4 linked regions of the Homo sapiens genome follow. The protein of the gene in region 3 interacts with the protein of the main gene of each other region in a pairwise test. Each region holds a gene or a part of one and is shown on either strand. Other genes may lie near its edges. The genes, in order: DIXDC1, SPTBN1, CDC5L and TTF2.

Evidence for each region.
Region 1: the proteins of CDC5L (region 3) and DIXDC1 interact in a two-hybrid assay, tested with the Homo sapiens proteins (2 studies listed by BioGRID and IntAct).
Region 2: the proteins of CDC5L (region 3) and SPTBN1 interact in binary tests that used the Homo sapiens proteins (3 or more experiments, as listed by UniProt).
Region 4: the proteins of CDC5L (region 3) and TTF2 interact in binary tests that used the Homo sapiens proteins (3 or more experiments, as listed by UniProt).

Annotation. Positions count from the first base shown.
Region 1 is NC_000011.10:111,933,257-111,940,382, reverse strand, and holds the start of DIXDC1 (dixin), read right to left. Parts: upstream 3,041-7,126; 5' UTR 2,884-3,040; coding exon 2,824-2,883; intron 1-2,823. UniProt on the Homo sapiens protein: Positive effector of the Wnt signaling pathway; activates WNT3A signaling via DVL2. Regulates JNK activation by AXIN1 and DVL2.
Region 2 is NC_000002.12:54,669,302-54,671,969, reverse strand, and holds the end of SPTBN1 (spectrin beta chain, non-erythrocytic 1), read right to left. Parts: 3' UTR 524-2,668; downstream 1-523. UniProt on the Homo sapiens protein: Fodrin, which seems to be involved in secretion, interacts with calmodulin in a calcium-dependent manner and is thus candidate for the calcium-dependent movement of the cytoskeleton at the membrane.
Region 3 is NC_000006.12:44,446,697-44,450,964, reverse strand, and holds the end of CDC5L (cell division cycle 5-like protein), read right to left. Parts: coding exon 4,254-4,268; 3' UTR 540-4,253; downstream 1-539.
Region 4 is NC_000001.11:117,091,319-117,098,366, forward strand, and holds part of TTF2 (transcription termination factor 2), read left to right. Parts: intron 1-9; coding exon 10-92; intron 93-498; coding exon 499-632; intron 633-1,412; coding exon 1,413-1,583; intron 1,584-3,324; exon of another isoform or gene 3,325-3,410; intron 3,411-3,990; coding exon 3,991-4,049; intron 4,050-4,830; coding exon 4,831-4,981; intron 4,982-6,032; coding exon 6,033-6,115; exon of another isoform or gene 6,116-6,887; coding exon of another isoform or gene 6,888-6,888; exon of another isoform or gene 6,889-6,920; intron 6,921-7,048. UniProt on the Homo sapiens protein: DsDNA-dependent ATPase which acts as a transcription termination factor by coupling ATP hydrolysis with removal of RNA polymerase II from the DNA template. May contribute to mitotic transcription repression. May also be involved in pre-mRNA splicing.

The sequences.
Region 1 (7,126 bases), on a different chromosome or scaffold from region 3:
GGGATGACAGCCAGGGTGGCAGTAGCCAAAACCTGTGGATAATTTGCCATCCAAATTAACCATGCCATTCAAAGGCATTGCATTGAAAGCACTGACAAGGATCAATTCCGTGAGTTATTTGCCAGACATGTTGAGGCCAGGGCTCTGTGTAGGAAATGCGGTAAGAGAAAACTCTGTCATGCATGGCTATACATAGTGGCAAAGGATTGAGAACAGAAGCCAACAGTGGGTAGAGGGAAGCCAGGATTCAGAGGGCAGGGTTTCTCTCTGCTGCAGGGTTCCCTTATAATTAACCAATTAAGGCCAAAGCTCCATTCCCTGTGGCAGTTTTCTCTGCCATAGAGAATGAGGTCACAGCCCTAACTACACAGACCTATAAGGCATCTGGGTGATGAAGAATAGCTTTAGATGTACTTGGATCATTCCCAGGAGGTGACTGGATACATGTGTGGTATTTGTAGACTCAGTAGGAATTCTCAGAAGAATTAAAGCGTATTCTGACACTAGCTTTTAAATCACTGTTTACATCCTTATCTCAAGGACTCTAAAAAAATAAATTGATATTACTGGATCGATTAAGCAACCCTGGAGGCTGGAATAGGTCAAATAGGGCCCCATGGACTCTAAAATAACCAATTACACTATTATTCAGTAGCACTAAATGTAATATTGTATGTAAAATGAATTATTTAATATAGAATGTGAAAGAATTATTTAAACTGTAAGGAACCATTCAAATTTAACATATTACTGTCATTGTTATTTAGATGATGTCAATTTTTCAGAGAAATCAAAAGTACTCATTGGCTGTCAGAGTTCAAATCTAACAGAGAGGAACAGACGTACACTAGCTTGTGGAGGGGATGGAGGGAAGTTTACAGAATGGGTAGAAAAATCAAATATCAGAGAAGGAAAAGAGGCACTACTGCATTATTCTAGGGATCAATTAATTAAAAAGTTATGCATCTGTTGTTTTTATGAAGATTCCATTACCACCACAAAAAGACCACTCTCCCATTCCCCTTTTCCCTTATGCCCTTATGTTTTTCAAGAATTGGAGGTCAGGGGATATTTATGGAAGCACCAAAGCATGAAACACACGGCCAAGCCTCTTAGTTTAGGTGGCTCTTCAGTCGAAAGGTTTCGAAGTGAAAATGAGCAGAAAACTAAGATTAGGACCAGCTCTGTGCTGGTTTCCTCCTCTTAAACAGACAGTGGGACCATCAAGAGCTGAGTTTTGTTGTTGTTGTTAAGTTGGGGCAGGAGGTATAAGACAACTAAAAGAGCTTCTGCCACAGTTGGTGAATGAGTCAGACTTACGCAGCTAAAGACCAGGGGCAGCCCAAAGGCAGAGAGTGAGAAAAGAGGAACCAGAATATTGGAATCACTCAGAGGTAGGCTTCCCGGCTCTTCTGTGTTTCAACTCTTAGACTACAGCTCTTTGTTAACAATCCCCTTACGTGTGTTCAGACAGGAAGGATGCAAAGATGAGGTGCCCTGCAGTGCAGACAGGATGCAAGCTCCGCCCTTCAGTGAAGGTTGTGACACCCCTTGGCCAAAGGAAAATTCCAACTCGGTTAGGTTGGGACAGCATTTCTGCAGTTTTCCTCTGTGTTAGGAACAACGCTAGGGCACGGGGGCCAGACCAGGGGAGGGTTCTGTGGCAGGTCAGGCTGCAGAGCTTCTTAATTAGAAACAGGAATTAAGGAAGGAGTCTGTAGTGCAGCTGGAGAAATAAAATCTTATACACGAATTCATGAGAATGGTTATTTCTGGAGAAAAGGCTGGAATGGGTGGGGGGAGCCAAAGGCACTTCAGTCTTGCCTATCAAATGCTCATATTTAAGAAGACAATGTATTCATATGTTGAGTAAAAACTGATTTTAAAAATCTTAAATTTCAGAGAGTCACAGAGAGAAGAAAGAGAGAGATGGAAGGAAAAGGAGCGAGAGAGAAATGAAGAAAGACACAACTAACAGCCTAGGTTTCCCTGGATGCTGGGCTAAGACAACCCGCAAGAGTAGGGCTTAGCTGCAGTCGAAGACGTATGGAGCAAATCTTGAGGGGGAAGCATCCCAAACCAGAATTTCCTGGGTCACAAGAAAAGCAAATGCAATAAACAGAATTGTAAGAGAAACAAGTGGGGAGGAAATGACCCCTTGTCGGCCCTAGCCCATCTTGCCTGTCAGAGTGAGGCCCCAGTTCCTCTGCTCTCACATGGACCGGTGCACGCGCTGGCTCCCTGGACCCAGGACCCAGGTCCCCTCTCGCTCAGTAGCTCCTCTCAGACAACCATGTCCTTGATTGCAGAGAAATCTACTGCCCCGCACTCAGAAAGAGATTCAGACATGAAGAGGGCACTTCACATGGACCATCTACAGTCCCCTGCCCTCTCAAACTTTCTACCAATGCAGTACCACTCCACCCTCCCTTGGCTCCGCTGGTTAGCTCCTGATATAGATGAGCACTTTTGCCAAATATCCAGGGATTCCCTGAGGATTTCCTTGGAGAGAGAAGCTCTAGGGAGGATGGAGACCCCCTCTTCTGGAAGGAGGTGATTTCTGAATTTGTGGTCCTGTCCTCTTGGGCTCAGGTAAGCTACCAGGGAAGGTCATGGCCCAGCTTAGCTGTGGGCAGGCAGCCCTTCTGATTTCTCCTGGTTCACCCATCTGCACCGTAAGTACCACCTTAGCCCCTTTGGGGTTCTGGGGGCGATTTGCTCTGGGGTCCCCAAAGGATGGAGGAGGAGGAGGACCCCTTCCGGAGACTGGGCGGGAGACGCTGGGGGAGGGGAGCTGAGGAGTGGGAGGAGCAGGACAGTTACCTCATTGAAGCCCTCCTGCAGGACGTCCAGTAAGTTCCCTCGGGTCAGGCAGGCTAGCATTGTTCCTGCTGGGGGCTCCCCGGGCGGGGTCTCCAGCCCGGCGGCCGCCGCCGCCTCCTCCTCCTCCCTCTGCACACAAAGGCTCTCGGCTCAGCTCATTGGGATCCCTCCGGAGTCCCGCATGCCACTTACTGGAAACCTAGACTGGAGCCAAACTAGCGGCTTGCACTGGGCATGCTCGCACGGGGGCCTCCGCTGGAGGGGCCCGGCGCGGTCGCGGTTCCTATGGAAACAACTGGGCGCGCACTAGGTTGAGCGGCGCTGCCGGGCTGCCCCCAGCCCCGCTTTCCTGCGGGAAAGCCGCACGGCCAGGCGGGCTGGCGAGGGCGCGCGCTGCACGCCCGCACGCACGCGCACACCCCCCCCCCGCCCGGGCCGCAGCACGGGCGTGTGTGCGTGCGCTACACACACACACACTCACACGGCTTTTAGGCAAACGTGCTGCTGTATGTGCGCGCTGTGTGCATACACACACACACACACATACACACATACACACATACACACACACACGTTGACAAACAGGCGGCCCGGCTGGCGTATGCATGCGCTTGCAGCCGCGCGCGCGCACACACACACCAGGCTTGCAGGCGGGTGTGCCCGTGGGGAGGGTGCGCAACACACACACACACACACACACACACACACACACACTGCTAACTTAAGGCCACAAACGGCCCACCAGAAGGTGGGTGGGAAAGGGAGTGAATCATAGGATTTTCCCCCAGACTAACCGAAAACAGCAACCTTTTTCCACATGGGCCCTGGACAGTGAGGTCAAGCTAAAGAAGAGGAAGCAGAAGGGAAAGAAATAAGAAAGAGAAAGAGCAGAGGAAGAAAGGGGGAAAAGAGGATAAAAAGAACTTTAGTTATTGATGGTATCAGAACACATTCAATAGAACAGTGCTAAACATCACGCAGGATCGCAACAGAAACATCAAGGATGACCAAGCCTTTTCCAAAATTTTCCTATTTCATTCTTTATAAAATAACTGCTAAAATATACAACCCATATTTTAATGTGTTTTAAAATAAATGGGCTTTAATTAAAATAAAGACTGCAAAAATGTCCTGGTGCATTTGAAAGAGGTAAAAAGCTTCCTCAAGTGAAACAGAAAGCTATTCTAGGCTGTTTCTAGCTATTCAAGTCATAGCCTTGATTATTTATTTTTAGGAATACTAGTCATTTGCAACTCAGTGCAAACTCTTGTTTCTATAGGAAAACTCGAAGCTGAAAAAACATTCATTTTACATTCCACCTCGTGATCCCAGATGGAGAGGAAGGGTTTACAGAGCATTAGGGCTCAGAGAAGGTCAGGGCCTTGTCCAAGGACGCAGCCAATCAGTGACAGGCAGCTCAAGGATCTAGGAGTCTACACTTATGATTTTCTGGAAGACCCAGATTCCTCCTCAAATCCTGATTAGTACCTTAGCCAGAAAAGTCAGTAATGGCTCTTATTCAACCTAATGACCTCTTCAGGTCCTTAGAGAAAAAGAAAATCCACCAAGAGCAGCCAGGCTAGCAATATCTTGTCTGAATGTCTAAAGCTGCTAAACACAAAGATGTTTCTGAAAAAGAACACATCTCCCTGACCACAACAGGCAGGGGGCAGAGGGCCAGCACAGGTGTTGAGTGGCAGCTGCTGGTTGAATGTAGTGGGTTCAATTCTGGCTAATGCTGGGGAAAAGCTAAGACACCAAATCATTCTAAACCTGAGCAGCCCACAAGTCCAAAGACCACTGTCCTTCATAATCTAGCTGAGGAATTTAACTGCCAAGAACTCCCTTTGACACTACCACACTTCGTGGTGTAACACCCCCGGAGAGTCACTAACCCATGTCAATTCAACAAGTTCCTTTATAAAGAGAAGCATGAAATTTCCAACAGCACAGACTTGCATGCAATACATCTACGTGCATAATGATGCAAAACCAAAGTACCTACTTGGTGGATCCCTGGGTAGAGGATCCTGATTGGTTGAGAGCCCCTCATGCTTTGTACACAGAGCAGAAAATATTGAGACATCAGAGGGAGATCCTGCTGACAGTTATCTATGCCAGAGGTCAGCGTTTCTCAAACAAGTCTTTGATCAAAGTAGGATCTGTGAGCTCAGTGTTTCTGGAAAAAGACTTATGAAATCACTGAATTTTAAAGCTCCAAAACATTTTGGCCCAACTTCCTTACTTGGCCCAAGTCCCTTATATCATAGAAAAAGCAACCAAGGCTAGGAGAGGTGCTCACAGTCACTCAGCAAGTCAGTATGGAAACTAAGATCTGAACCAGAGGGCTCTGAGGTCTGATCCTGTGCTCTTTGCACTGCCCATCACAGCATGCTGGAGGAATTAAGAGAGAATTGTAGTGAATTGATTTTTTAAAATGTATTATAAGGCATATGGTCCAATATTGCACTATTCCCTAAAAGTCTATAACTATACAAACCACATATTCTAGAGCAATGGTGTTCACTAGGACTGTCTGTGAAGATGGAAATGTTCTATATCTATGCTGTACAATATAGTGGCCATACGTGGCTACTGAGCACTTGAACTACAGCTAATGCAACTGTGGAACCAAAATTTTAATGGCATCTAATTTTGATTTAAATAGTACAATTTCAAAATATTCATTCTATTGTTCCCATATGACTATTAAGATGTGTTCCAAAAATTATACTATTTTACATAGTCTGCCTCTCACATTTGGAAAAAGCACAAAATTCCTGTCAGACCATATAATGTCCATTTTTTTTTTTGCTCAGAAGAGATGTTCACCACAGTTATCTTAGTTGGCCTTACAAAGTGGCTCAGATGAAGAACTGAGCTTTAGCTCCAAACAACACTAACATTTAGTATTCCTTCCATCCTCCCGATCCCACCATGTTGTAATATCAACATAAGAGCTGGGAGAGTATGAGGGCTAGCTACAAGAACTAGGAATAACTGGGACAATGATCAGGCATCCCATAGTGTTTGTATGTGGGAAAACTGCAAGCCATCTGGGTAGCTGGAACCACTTCTGCTGCTGCAGGGCTGTCATTCACTCTGCCTGGAAGCAGAGGCAAAGAAACCCAGCAAACTGCTTTCTGCATATCCCTGCCATGCTGCCTGATTTCTGAACTTATACCTGGCTTCCTCAGTCCTGCATTATTTTGACAATAATGGCAGACATTTCCCCCACAAACTAAAAGCTACCCAAATATCTATATATAACAGTAATAATAGCAAAATTGAGCTTTTACTGTGTGCCAAACCCTGTACTCAGCACTTAGTATTAGCTCATTTGACTGTCACAATTACCATAAACAGTAGGATTTTTACATATAAAGAAAGAGAGGTTTGGAGAAGTAATTTGTCACAGACCCAATAGCTACTAAATGGTGAAGCCAAAGTCCAGGTTCTTAACCATTATGCAATACTGTCATATGAAGAATGCAACATTACATTACATAAGAATGCAAGATTACATTACAAAAATGTAAATCTATTTTTACTTGAAGGAATGAATGAGCCAGTGGGAGAAACATTAATCACGTCTGTTAATAAATAGAGTAAGATGTTAGCCTAAGTAAGACTTTGAGCCTTAAAATAAAACCATCATTTGGTGAAAATATTGCCTGTGACTTCTCTCTGCATAAAAATAAGAAGTGTGAAATTCAAATCTATATAAAATGTAACACAACTATTATGGCCAATAATTCATGACTATAAAGAAACAGAAAGGCAGTTTGAATAAACAAATAATTACAATTGTCAATAAAAATATTTTAAATGACCCTTGGAATAATGTCTTTTTTTTTTTTTTTTTTTTGAGAGAGAGAGAGACAAGATCATCTCACTCTGCTGCCCAAGCTAGAATGCAGTGGCACAAAAAAATTACAAAATTAATACAAAAAAATACAAAAATTAGCCACTCATGGTGGTATGTGCCCATAGTCCCAGCTACTCAGGAGGCTGAGGTGGGAGGATCGCTTGAGCCCGGGAGGTTGAGGCTACAGTGAGCCGTGACTGCACCACTCCACTTCAGCCTGGGCAAGAGTGAGACACTGCCTCAAAAAAAGAGAAAAGGTCCGGGAGCGGTGGCTCACGCCTGTAATCCCAGTATATTGGAAGGCCAAGGCGGAAGGCGGGCAGATCACCTGAGGTCAGGAGTCCGAGACCAGCCTGACCAACATGGAGAAACCCCCTCCCTACTAAAAATACAGAATTAGCCGAGCATGGTGGCGCATGCCTGTAATCCCAGCTA
Region 2 (2,668 bases), on a different chromosome or scaffold from region 3:
CTGCGTAAACAGCACTGTATTATTTCTTACAACTGCATGTCAGTATACAAGTATTGCAAAATAAAGAGTTAAAAAAAAAAAAAAACTGTTCTCAGTTATTGGTGGTGGTAGTATTAGTATTGCTATTCTGAGTTTTTATAACATGGAATAAAGCAAATGAATAATTTTAAACTATTCTAGTGGAAAATGAAATATTTCACCATGATCTTCAATAGACAGAAATCTCTATTGAGCTTTGATGGAAAGAAGTCTTTTTTCTTCTTTGTTAAAATATGTTTTTGTGTTATGGACCATGTTTAGAAAGGTCAATTCAAAATTATAAAACATATTCACCAAAAAACGAGGATTTCACCAGAAAACTCAAATATATTTAAGCCCATAAATTCATAATATTTAAAAAATTGTTCATCTTTAGAGGATAGGAACCAACTCATAAATAACGCTGATTATAGGAAAGTAATGCAAATAATGGGAAAGACTCCAGCATTGATCCTGCCTTTTCTACATGGACTGCACCACTACATGAAGGGAAGTATGTCTTTATTTAAGAATTCCGACTGATAAAACAATGTATCCAGGGGAACTAACATAGGATCCCCATACACAAGCAATTCTAACAGTTCCAGGAACTTGGTGAAATGACAATGTGCCCATCACCCAGTCTGATACAGTGTTTCACCTACTCAAGATGCCAGGAATTGTAAGAAGCACAGTCACTGGCACTCTCGGTACACCCAAAAAAACCACAGCCAGTTCCGGAAGTGCCATCAGAAGATGCATCCCAACTTGAGATGCTCAAGTAGGACAAAAAGTGGCCTTGATTCAAGTGACAACGCCATTTCATATCCTAAGCCTTATTTTCACTACTTCTTACTCTTCAGATTTATGGAGGGGCCAGTATTGTCACCCATATTGTATCACTGAAAATCAGGGTAAAATAGCACAGCATTATGGCAACAAGAAATATGCAAAATCCTCAAAAAACATGATAGTGGAAGAATAAAAAAAAAACAAAAAACCCAAAAACTATTTACCCTGCCAGGCTTGAAGCTCATCAGGCTGTGCGGCCTGTAACCTCTGATGGCGAACACGTCTTGACTGGGGTCTTCTGACGCTCCTCTCGCTGCCCATCATCTTCCACATTCAGGCCTCAGTGGATCCTTATCAAATGCACCAAGAGAGAGCAAATACCACCAAACCCTGGCTTCATAACTACAGATCTGCGAACTGTTGAAATTATGTGCACGATGTTCCACATGTACGTATTTATTATGGGACTCCAGGATTGCTGGTATGAACTTATTGCCATCTGCACAGCTTTGTCAAGAGTACAAGACTGTAATTAATCACAATTGTTTCCAAGATACTTTGCCTTAACTAAACATTTTGGTCTGTTGAGAATAGAACAACTTGATTCCAACCCTGAGCATGGCAAGGGCAAAGGACTGTCGTGGGAAGCAGGGGAGAGGATGGTGAGGTCTCAGTTTGCCTAGAGGTAAGAGAGTTAAGAGAAAGCTTTGATGCCACGCAGCTGTGGAGCCCAGGGCTGATGCCACCTTAGGCATGGTCTTTGTGGAATAACTTACTGGACATCCATAATACTAATATCCATTGCTGCTTTATGCAAGTGGCATGGAGTCAACATACCCAGATAACCCAGGAAAAGTATGTCACTTGTAAATAACCCACGACTCTATGCTGAAGTCAGCAAACTATGGCCCATGGGCCAAACCTAACCTCTTGCCTGTTTTTTTTTTTTCTTCTTTTTGGTCTGATCTGTATAAAATAGACTTTACATTTTGAAATCATTAAGAAAATCAAAATATTGTATGGCATGTCAAAGTTATATGAAATTCAAATTTATGTCCTTAAATAGTTTTACTGGAACACAGCCATGCCCAGGCATTCACATACCGTCAATGGCTGCCTTTGTATTACGCAACAGCAGAATTGAGCAACAGAGACAGTTACGGCCTACAAAGCCTAAAATATTTACTATCTCTGTCCCTTTACAGAACAAATTTGCCAACCCCTATCTCAGAGTTCAGGTTTCACAAGTGCTCTGGTAACTTTTTCATAAATAAAAGATAAAGCCTGAATGTATAACTACAAAACAGTCACATTTATTACTGTTTGCTGTAGTTTTCAAAGCTTGTGCACCAGACATGCATAAAAAATGCAAAAGTGAGCCCAGACTGGTTGTAAAATGTTTCTTGTTTGTCATTTCTCCCTTTGCAGTTTCCCTACTGGGCATGCACACGCAGCAGAGGAAGAACAACAACTAGTCACCGTGCTAGATTTAAAAGCATTTAATGACATAGCATATATTTAACAGATAGGGCAAAAGTTGAGAGGTACAGGTCGTACGACTGAGCACCAGGCCTGAGCGACCACCTCCCTGTTCAGGCCCAGCCTCTGGAGTTCATTCCTATCAATGTCATTTTGATTGTGCAGTAAGATGAAAATTTGTCATTACAATAGTTACAGTGACAGAGAAATGCACACTATGTATCAAATAGCAAGGAAATGAAGCAAATTATAACACAGTGTGGCAACGCACGAGCAAGTAACCATTAGAGTAACATTACTTTGTCCAGTAAATGCTTCAGTTCCACCACTTGTACACTTACCAATGATTTAAAGGGTTTATTATACATCTAGTTTTATT
Region 3 (4,268 bases):
AAAAAAAAAAAAAAATTTAAGCCAACCATACAGATATTTTGAAAAACTTAATTATTGAACCAGAAATTTAAAACACAATGATATACTACTTAGAAAACAAGACTACTACATATCAAAATGGCTGGGATGTGAACATATTTGAACTCAAAGGACAGTTCAAAAGTCTTCAACACATTCATTTGTATACAAGCAAAAAATAAGCATCAGTCTCAAAAAGTCAAAAAACTACAGAAAACAAAATAATAAGCCTAAATTGAGAAATTAACATATTTTAAAACAAAATCACAATAGATAAGCCAATAAAAACACTAGTTTTCTGAACAGAAAATGTATACCCTTAACAAGTCTAGTCAAGTAAAAAGTGGTAGAATTAAGAGAAGGTAAATTTCCTATAACTTAGAAATGGCAAAGTTAATAGAAAAGAAATTGCTATTAGAATTTTCTGCTAACAACAGATGTTTAAATTTGAACAAAATAAAAATATTTCTTAAAAAGTATACATTACCTAAATTTACTAAATAAACATAAAAGGAAGAATATATTTTAAAAACAATTTTTTTAATTTAAAGTTGCTTAAATTTAAAAATAGGTAACATAATAGTCACAAAAGAAACTGACAGTTATAAAGAAATTATTTCCAGAAAGCACTGTGAACTCAAAAGTTCTGTAAGTACAGACTTTCAACCTTTCATGAACAAATCATTCCCATGTTATAACTGCTTAATGCACAGAAAAAGATATACAGTTATCCTATTTACTTTAGAGAGCTAGCAAAATCCCAATATCAAAATACAATAACCAGGCTGGGCATGGTGGCTCACACCTGTAATTCTAGCACTTTGGGAGGCCGAGGTAGGTGGATCACCTGAGGTCAGGAATTCAAGACCAGCCTGGCCAACATAGCAAAACCCCATCTCTACTAAAAACACAAAAATTAGCCAGGTGCGGTGGCACATGCCTGTAGTCCCAGCTACTTGGAAGGCTGAGGCAGAGAATCACTCGAGCCCAGGAGGCAGAGGTTGCAGTGGGCCAAGATTGCACTACTGCACTCCAGCCTGGGTGAGAGAGCAAGACTCCATCTCAAAAAAAAAAAAAAAAAAGTACAATAGCCCAAAAGACCAATCTCACTAATGTAAAAATGTAAATTTCCTAAATAAAAGATTAGTAAATCAAATTCAAATGCATTTCTAGGGAGGATGCATGGTTGGCCAACATTAAGTCTGCAGTCACTGTAGTGTAGTTTTTCTTTGATGTCGTTTTTTATTAGACAGCATTATGTCTCTAATATTTCAAAAAGGACTCTCCCTTGTGGTGGTTTCTTTCAGCTTTTTATCACATTTTATTTCTATCCCAAAGTTACTGAGACTTTAACATGCTTAACACAAGTTTTAACAATACCTTAATGAATGCCTTAACAACCAATACCTTAGTGAACAATACCAATGTGAATGTTATTTTTATTATTATTTTTTAATAGAGACAGGGTCTCACTATGTTACCCAGGCTAATCTTGAACTCCTGAGCTCAAATGATCCTCCCACCTTGGCCTCCCAAAGTGCTAGGATTACAGGCATGACTCACCACCCCTGGCCTCAGTGTGAATGTTAAAATAGTCACCAAAATCGCTGTATGGTGCTGGTAAAGAATCCTGGGCTTTACAGGATACTGACAAAGGATAACAGTGTGTCTGTTCACCATTTCAAGTGGCACCACTACCTGGCAAATGCATATGCAGTTTACAATGTGCCAGTTTTGAAATTTTGTAATTCCTGCCGATTTTTTTAGGCTATAAGTATGTGAATTACTTCAAATTTTGAAAACAAAGTGAGCCTTTATTAATATTAGATCAACTTTTAAATCCATATAATTCAAGTCTACAAAAAGTGCAAATAAACTATAAATCCTTTAAAATTTCTTTTAAAAATTAATCTACCTGATTCCAGGAGTGCAAAGATGATTTAATGTGGGAAAATCTATTAATATACCTCATCAAAACATCAAATGAGAACAATTATATGAATGCTTTAATAGATGCCCAAATGGTATACTGTTTAAAGTTCCAGAGCCATTTCTAATTCAAACTCTTTAAAAACTAAAAGAGAGACACTGTCTTTCAGATAAAGACTATCTAACTCCCAACAGCAAACTTAAAACTATGGACATTCCCATTAAAATAAGAAAAAAAAATGTCTAACATCATTATTGTTAACATTGTCCTAAACATTTCAGATAACAAAACATGCAATAAAAGTGAAATAAAACTATCAGAAGAAACACTATCATTATTCACTGATGATACTGAAGTTTTTCCTAGAAAACCCAGAACTTACTGAAAAAAGTATTTGAATTAAGTGACTACACACCAGGAAAATATCAATTTATCGTCTGATAAGACTATTAAGTATATACCTATCATGTCTCTCCACATATCTCCACTACTATTACCTGGACTCTAGTTAGAATCACTATTATTTTTTTGTCTGGATCACTGCATCAGGCTCCTAATTGGACTGGCTTCCCTATCTCCAGCCTGGTGAGATTTTACACACTAAGGAGATAGTGATGTTTCTAAAACCAAATCTGATCATGTCATTCCTTTGCTTAGATCTTCTCATCGATTCTTATCATATTTAAAGTAAGATCCAAATTCCTTATTATAGCCTTATTTATGTGGCTCTATACAACGAGGTCTTATATACAGAAATGCCATTCTTGACACTCTAGCTGCATTGTCCTTTTTGTTCCTCAAACATACAAAAGAGGCTTTATGTTTGCTATTCACTCCACCTAGGATGTTCTTTCCTTGAATCTCACAAGGATAGCCCATTCTAAAATGTCAATCACATGTTATCTTAAATGTTACTTCTTTAAGAGGTCTCTTTGGCCGTGCAGCTTATAGTGGTACGGTGCGGCACAGTGCAGTGGTATAGTGGTGAGCATAGCTGCCTTCCAAGAGGTCTCTTTGATCGTCCAGTCTAAAATAGCCACTCATTCACTATCTCATAATCACCCTACTTTAATTTCCTCCACAGAATCTAAAACTCATGGTCTGATACTTTCCCTGGACATACTTAGTATCTCCTCCCCACTAATGTCACCTCCATGAGAGCAAGAACTCTGTCTTAATAACTGCTTATCTCCCAACACTTAAGTGTCTGACACATAAGAATCACCAAATAAACATTTGGATTTTAATTGTCTGTCATTCTCAAAAGACTATAAGCTCTACTAAACAAGAACTAGGCCTATTTTGTTTGTTGTTCTCTCTCTAAGACTCTGGCACAGGGTATACATTCAATATCGAATGAATGAATGAATCCCTTCCCTTCCTATAGTCCCTAGTATTCTAAGACTGGGCAAACGTTTTTGGTGATGTCAAAACATTGCTAGTCTATAATGAGCTTGTAGCCAACTGATACTGTAACTAAATCAATTTATATGAATTATATAAAATTAAATATCTCCACCTCTATCCATTCCCCAAATTCTACACTGATGTAACTGACTTCTTAGGCTAAACATAGAGCTTTAAGTTTGATGGCCTTCTTGAAATTAACTTTTAAAATGCCTTTGTCAAAAAATACTTATAAGAAAATAATGGGGCAAGGAAGTTAAATCTTTTAAGCCCTGACCCATAAATTATTTAAGTAGCTGGCAGACAAGAGACCTTCTTTAAAGTGATATTAACAAAAAAAAAATTTGAGGTACTAAAAAGTTAATCTAACTTGTCAGTGTATACAGAAATGACCACTCTTTGCTGAAACTAACAAAGCCACAAAGAACTGCCTCTTAAGTGTTTAAGATACTGCATCACCATTTTGATTACCCAAGAGTTACTCATTAAATATGACACAGAGTACATAGCTGCTGGTTTGCAGGCACTCTTAAGTATCTAATTACTTCAAACAAAAGGCTACATTCTCAATTTTTTATATTTTGTTTTTATTCAAGAGTTACTCACAGGCAGCACTTTAAAATTAGGCTTTTTAAATTAAAGGCCAAAACTAAAAAAGTTTGCAAATATGACATTACTAAAAGAATGATAGCCTTAATAATTTAAACTCTAAAATGTCCGTCCTGTGGAGTTAAGGTCTTTATACACAGAATGTGTAAGATCGATATCATTTAAAATAAACAACTGAAAAACCACAGATGGTGGGTAAATTTGTCAATGAAGATAAACATCAGTTTCAGCCTTCTAGAGTATGAAAACCGGCAATTAATTAATCCTGTGACAGAATATAAACTGTACTTCAGAATTTTGACTT
Region 4 (7,048 bases), on a different chromosome or scaffold from region 3:
CTGAGGCAGGTCAGCTCTGCAATCCTATCTAAAAAGACATGAAAGTAGAGGCAACCAATCTGGAAGAAGCCCTAATAATCCATTCAGTAGAGGTAAGCTGTAGGACTCTCATAAATACATATGACTGGTGAAAATGGGGATTTGGATTCAGTAAAACACAGAAATGTGAGGTTATGAATCCTTGGTATCAGAGATTTGGCGTTAACTAAGACCCTCAAACCAGAGTAAAATCTACTGATTGCAAACACGAGATCTGGTGTTTATTTAGCTTCTTTTTAATTGTTTCCTAAATCTGCTTTATTAAAATGCAGGTAGTTCTATAAGGAAAAACCGATATTTCATTTGGCCTAATTGAAGTGGCCTATAGAAGTGAGTTGTAACTATATTATTGAGTCTGAGATCAAACATGGTTAAAGTAGCCCCATGTAGTTCCTGGCTCTCTCCGTATTTCTCTTTTAAATCCTGTACCATCCTGTGGCTTGTCTTCCCTCTTGGAAGTGGCACTGGAGTTTGGGTCTGAGGAGCCTAGACACTCGGAGGCAGCAGACTCACCGAGATCCAGCACCGTCCACATACTGTCCCAGTTGCTGAGACTCCGCCAGTGTTGCTGTCATCTTTCTTTACTGAAGTCGGTAAGAAAAGCCCTCAGCCTGCTGTCATATAGTGCTCCAGAGGGGCCACCTGAGAAGTCAATTTCACTCTCCTCCAACTGGAATCCAGTCTGCTTGATCAAAGGAAATGCTGTTTCGGTTTTTCTATTTTTGTTTTTTGGTGGGTTGGAGAAAAGGGGGCTTATTTATTTTGCTTTATTTCATATTAATCTTGATAATTCCTATGGCATCAAGAATAGTGTATTTCTATTGTTTATTTTGTTTTAGATTAACTGTTTAAGAAAAGAAAATGATATTTTGTTTAAAAAGAAGCCATTTGTGAATGCTCTGGTACTTCAGAATGTCATAAAGCTAATTTAGTTCTTGGGGTTTTCTGCTTTCAGGCAGTTTTGGGGTTTTGGGTTCCAGTTATAAAAACTCAGATAGTTATACAGACTGAAAAGTTGCCCCTACCTTGGATAGAGGCACATCCAAAATTAAGAGGAGTATTCTATTCATTTAAGGAGCTGTAATAATGTATTCTGATTATCAACATCTCAATTATATTCTAGCTTGGAAAAAATAGAATGATTATGTCATCTGCCTGGCAAGTCTTTAAAAAGTTCCATCATTTGGTTTATCTTTAATGTGGTGAAAAAACTTGCAAGATCACACTTTAATCAAGGTGTCTTGAGGAGTTACTGATGACAAATTACAAGATATTTTGCTCTGTGAAGTGGTAAACAATCAAAACATCATCAACAAGTAACAAGGTTTGCTCCCTTGACTCCCAGCTGCTCCTGTCCTTTTTTGTCTGTTCAGGCCCTGGATCCAATGGAACTGAAGGGTGAAGGTCTTGTCCTTTCCCTGGAAGAACAGCTCAGTGCTTTGACCTTGTCAGAACTCCGTGACTCAGAGCCATCTTCCACTGTTTCCCTTAACGGCACCTTCTTCAAGATGGAGCTTTTTGAAGGCATGCGAGAGAGCACCAAGGTACTTTTTGTCTCCTCTGTAGTAGTCGAGAGACTTCGATTCCTCACACATTTTCCTGTGTGACAGCACTTCATTTGTCCAAGTGGGAACAGCCATTTGCCAGCAGAGCTAGAGCCGTTAAATTCTAGCTGATCAGATTCTCCCTCCAGTCTTAAAGCTTCATTTATTTCACAGATAACACTAAAGCCTTACTACATAGGGGACTTTGAGAGAGTAATTTGGGACAACCCCAGCATTGCACTGAAGTGGGTTTTCTGTCATGGGTCACTGGGGAGCTTGCCAGGTTTGTGCTAGGGACGGGGCCTATGCAAGTGAGCAATTTGTTTAGAGAAAGCTTAAAAGGAAAACAAAGGCTTGACTCTAGAGACTGTGTCATACATGCGAGCGCCAATTGCTCTGACTTTGAAAGGCTTCCACATGTGAGTAGTGTTTCCTACATAGCCTTCTGTCTTCATTAGTCATTCTGCTCTGTTTTCGTCAGAGCTTTTTAAGGCAGAAACATTCTGCTGGAGGAAGGCTTAGATATGCCGTAACCTGAATCCTGCCTGTCTGCTGGCTCGGAATGTGCTTCATCATCCTGCCTGTCTTGAAAGTGAGGCTTGTTTCTCTCTTAGCATCTCAAGCTGCCGTTCTTGGGCTCAACCTCTCTTCAAAGGCTTTTTTTGAAAAAGTGTATTAATAACTAGAAAGGTCACTTCCAGGGGAATGGCATTATTTTTTAAAAGGAATGCTGCCTTTTAATTAAAATTTGAAAACATTTACCTAGGTCTTTACCACTGATAGCTGAGAGAAACATAAGAAGAGCATCCCATGTGGCCAGAACACACATGCTAGTGCCTTCAGAGTGAGCTATTGGGCTAAAATTTAAATTCCTAATCATTTGTGTTCCTTGTTTAATTAAATGCAGGTAATATTTATTCACAAGTTTTCTTAACATATGTCCATTAATAGTTCAAACCACATACGGTTGTTTCAAGTAGGGAAGGAGGCTTCTTACTGGAATTTGACCCCGGCTCGTGGGCCATAAATCCAGCCCTCCTGCTGCAGTTTTCTCAAAACACCATGGCTAGCTTTTTCATGTGGGAGTCACAGCGCCTTCCACAATCTCAAGTTGCCAAGACACCAGGCACATCAGTGTCTCTGTTCTATTGTTAACTAAATAACAGATGTAGCTGCTTTTCTGTCTGCTAATTTGAATGGTACAGTTCTGTGACTCACTTCCTGCCTAGGCACCAGAATGTTTGTTAAGATTGGAAAGCAGCCCCATGTGGTGACCACTGTAATGACATCCTAGAATGTGGGAGCTCAGGGCACCTCAGAATTTATCTGGCCTAAGTCCTTCTTTTCACTGATGAGGAATCTGAGTCCCAAAGTGGTCCAGCCATATGAGGACAGAGGAAGAACTTCTGTATATTTGTCTCCTGATTGACTTACAGCCCAGTTTTCTTCCTTCTCCAGCATTCTGGGGGTGAACTCTGGGGCCCTTAGAGGCTCTTGAAAGGTTTTTCACATGAGCAGCTGGGAAGAATGAGCCCAGCTGCACTCCAAAGTCATGCCCCACGTGTTCTTACTGACAGCTCCCCTGTGGACTCAAGTGCACCCTAAGGGTTCTTGGGGAATACCCAGGGAGCCTGTTCGGAAGCTTTAACAATGGTTCCTCCGTCTGGACAGGTCCTTTTCAACAACATTTGGAGCAGGCCATAAAGTGGGTAAAGCTCTTTCACTTTCTTCTTCAGCAAACATTAGGAGAGTATCTTCTCTGTTTTGGCCATGTGTGTACTCACAGCCCCTCACACATGGCCGAAACAGAGAAGTTACTTTCCTAATATTTGCCTCCTTGGAGTGTCTCAAGTCCTGGAAGCAAGAGATAATAAGCAATTAATATACAGTATGACAAGGACCGTGATAATAGAAACAAAAGGTGCTATGATAGTACTTGGGCAGTGGGCACCTAACCTGTACTTTGGGGGTTGGGAGGACCTCCAAGAAGAAGTGACATTAAGCTGACACAAAAGGGTGTTCTAGGCAGAGGGAGCAGAATGGACAAGATGGCCAGTGTGTGATTTATGGGAAGAATTTTGGTGTGCTTGCTGTGTCGTTTGAGGAGGGCATGGTGAGAAACGAACCCAGAGAAGCAGAGGCTGGAGCAGCAAGAATCCGGCAAGCTGCCTTGAGGAGCTTGGCCTTTATCCTCAGTGGGAAGCTATGGAAGGGCTTTAGCCAGAGGGGTGAAGTGACAAACTCACATTTTAGAAAGAGCTTTCTGGCTGCAGAGAGGAGGGTGGAATAAAGACAGGTGAGGCCAGAGCACAGACGCCATGTAGGAGGCTGCTTCGCATGGCAGGTGAGGGGAGATGGAGAAAAGTGAATTGCTTAAACATACAATGTTGATGTAACCTTTTCCCAGATTTCATCTCTGTTGGCAGAATTGGAGGCAATTCAAAGAAATTCAGCATCCCAAAAGAGGTAACTGCGTTTTCTCATTATCCAAGTATTGGTCATAATTATGTGAGAAAATTTGATATTGCCAAGAGTTATAAATCAAGGACTGTGAGTCATGCTCAGCAGAAAGCACTGAGGTTATAGCACACATTCCCTGTGATTTCTAATTAAAATATTTGTGGTACAAATTGAAAAGGAGATCCCTAGAGGATCAGGGTAAGCGAAGCATCTGAAAAAGTGTTTAAAAGTAGAGAAGCATATAAAGAAAAGCAAGCGAGTGAGGAGGCTCCAGCAGTGCTGATAACGTTCTTAAGCTGAGTACTTGGATACAAGGACTCATTTGTTATACCTGACATATGTGCTATACACCTGCATTATTTATAAAATAATTCAATATAAAAATTTAGAACTCGAATTAAGACAGCGTGGGGGCAGGGAGGAGCCTGTTGTTCTGGCTGGCACAAGAAGGGTGGTCAGTGTGTCCCTTTTGTGCAGGACCACAGATTTCTGGATGAGCACTAGGACCCCAAATGAAAGAAGGCTGGAGTCATCACTTTACTCTAGCTACCATTTTTTTCTGACTTCATTTAGCACTAAATAAATTGTAGAAAGGACCTAGAAATAACTGGAAGCATTATAATCTTCAGATATGACCTAAATGTGTGCCTTCTCCCTTAGGTAGCAGAAGGCCTTTCCTTGTCAACATTTGATAGCTAACCTTAAGAATGATGAGGGCATTAAAGCCCTGCAGATGAGTCTGTTTAATCTATGTTAGGGTATTTTTTTATTTTATTCTTCTTTCCAGTGTCATTGTCTCTCAGTGGACCAACATGCTGAAAGTTGTAGCATTGCACCTGAAGAAGCATGGACTGACTTATGCCACCATCGATGGCTCTGTCAATCCCAAGCAGAGAATGGACTTGGTAGAGGCATTTAACCACTCCAGAGGCCCTCAGGTACAAGCTGGTCACATCAGAGCCGCATAATTAACTGTTCTGAGTTATACAAAGAGAATTCTTTTTGTTTGGTTGGTTTTTGTTTTTGTCTTTTTGAGACGGAGTTTTGCTCTTGTTGCCCAGGCTGGACTGCAATAGTGCTATCTTGGCTCACCGCAACCTCCGCCTCCCGGGTTCAAGCGATTCTCCTGCCTCAGCCTTTCAAGTAGCTGGGATTACAGGCTCCTGCCACCAAGCTTGGCTAATTTTTGTATTTTCAGTAGAGATGAGGTTTCACCATGTTGGCCAGGCTGGTCTTGAACTCCTGACCTCAGGTGATCCACCTGCCTTGGCCTCCCAAAGTGCTGGGGTTACAGGCGTAAGCCACCGTGCCCAGCCATATAAAGAGAATTCTGATATGGCAACTTAAAAATATTTACAGCCTTGATTCCTCCGAGTGTTTAGAATTTATTAGACATGTATTGGGATACTTTTAAAGAGCACAAATATTCTAAAAAGAATCAAATATGAGGACTAAAAGGAGATTAACAGCAGAGCTGGTTAGGTTGAGGGGAATCTTTGCAGAGGAGGCAAGCTTTGAAGGATAGGTGGGGTTTTGGTATGAGGAAATATGGAAGGAAATGAAAGAACACAGGCATCTAATTATAGATAATAAAGATTTGGAAAGCATTAGTAGAATGATAGGCAGGAGAATTATTGTAGCAATGGAGGGGTAGGGACTGATGAAATAAACATAATCTGGTTAATTGAAAGTTTATTGAGCTGACCATCCCCAGGGTTCTAAATTACAGTATTTATATATTTTGGCAAGCACTCAGTTAATTTTTTGAGGTTGACTCACACACACACAAAATGTGATGTGAGAATTTTCTCAAAAGTGAGACATGGGAGATAGCATTATAATGTTAAAAAAAAAAACAATTTATAACAGCAGAAGGAAATTTGATAGGAACACAGTGCTTATCTGTATTGATTGTGGACTTAAACCTGAGACCGAGATGTGTTACGAGACCAAGTCTGTTTAAAGTTAATGTTGTGTTTCCTTTTGAAGGTAATGCTAATCTCTCTCTTGGCCGGAGGTGTTGGTCTAAACCTGACTGGAGGAAATCACCTCTTTCTTTTGGACATGCACTGGTAATGATTCCGGATTTGTCCTGGGTTGTCACAGCACATCAAGGAGGCCAGTGGGCTACAGGGGCAGCAAGAACTGACTTCTTATGTTGATTGCTGTGTTCGTATTGCAGAGATGCCTTGCTTTGTATGTGTCTATAGATACAGATCTAAGCAGGGTATAGGGCTAGCTGACTCCCCTGAATTCCTGAGCTAGCAAGCCTTCAAATGACTACTCAAAATAGTTCATTCACGTTATTGTTAGTCTAACATCTGTTTCCATGGAAACGGGGAGCATAGCTTTTCCTCATGGCTAAGAGTTAACCTTGCTCAGTTTTACCTCTTCTCCAGAATACTGTATTCCAGACACACTTGTTGGGGTCCAAGGAAATTTCAACCTTTGAAAAGAGGGAGAAGCATTACTCCAAAAAGAAAAGGAATAGGGATTTTCTAATTATGTTAGAAATACACTTAATACCTCACCCTTGGATTCATTGTATGTAGTGTTAATACCAGGAGTACAACCACATCTTTCGTGGCTACAGAATGAATGAGTTAGTGTGTTGCTAACAGAAAATCTCATAATGAGTACCAGTTTCTGGTTTTCCAGTTATGCCAATCAAGGATTGCTGCTGGGGATTGTCATTGGTCCAATTCTCCAGACAGCCCAGATGGGTACAAATAGGTCAACCTGTTATCATCTTCCAGGAGAACGGGTTTAGTTCTTACTTGGGACTCCTCTGTACACGTGAGTGAGGAAAGCATACTAGGAATCATGCTTTTTTTTTTTTTTCAGAGATAGAGAAATGTTATCCAAGATTTTAAAGAGGTAAGATGAGAAACTAATTTGGAGTTACAATGGGAATCAATAAAGAAGGAAACAAATTAAGTCTCCTTAATCGAATCACAGAATATTCAAGTTGAAAAAGGCAGCTAGTCAAGATCATTAGCTGGCCC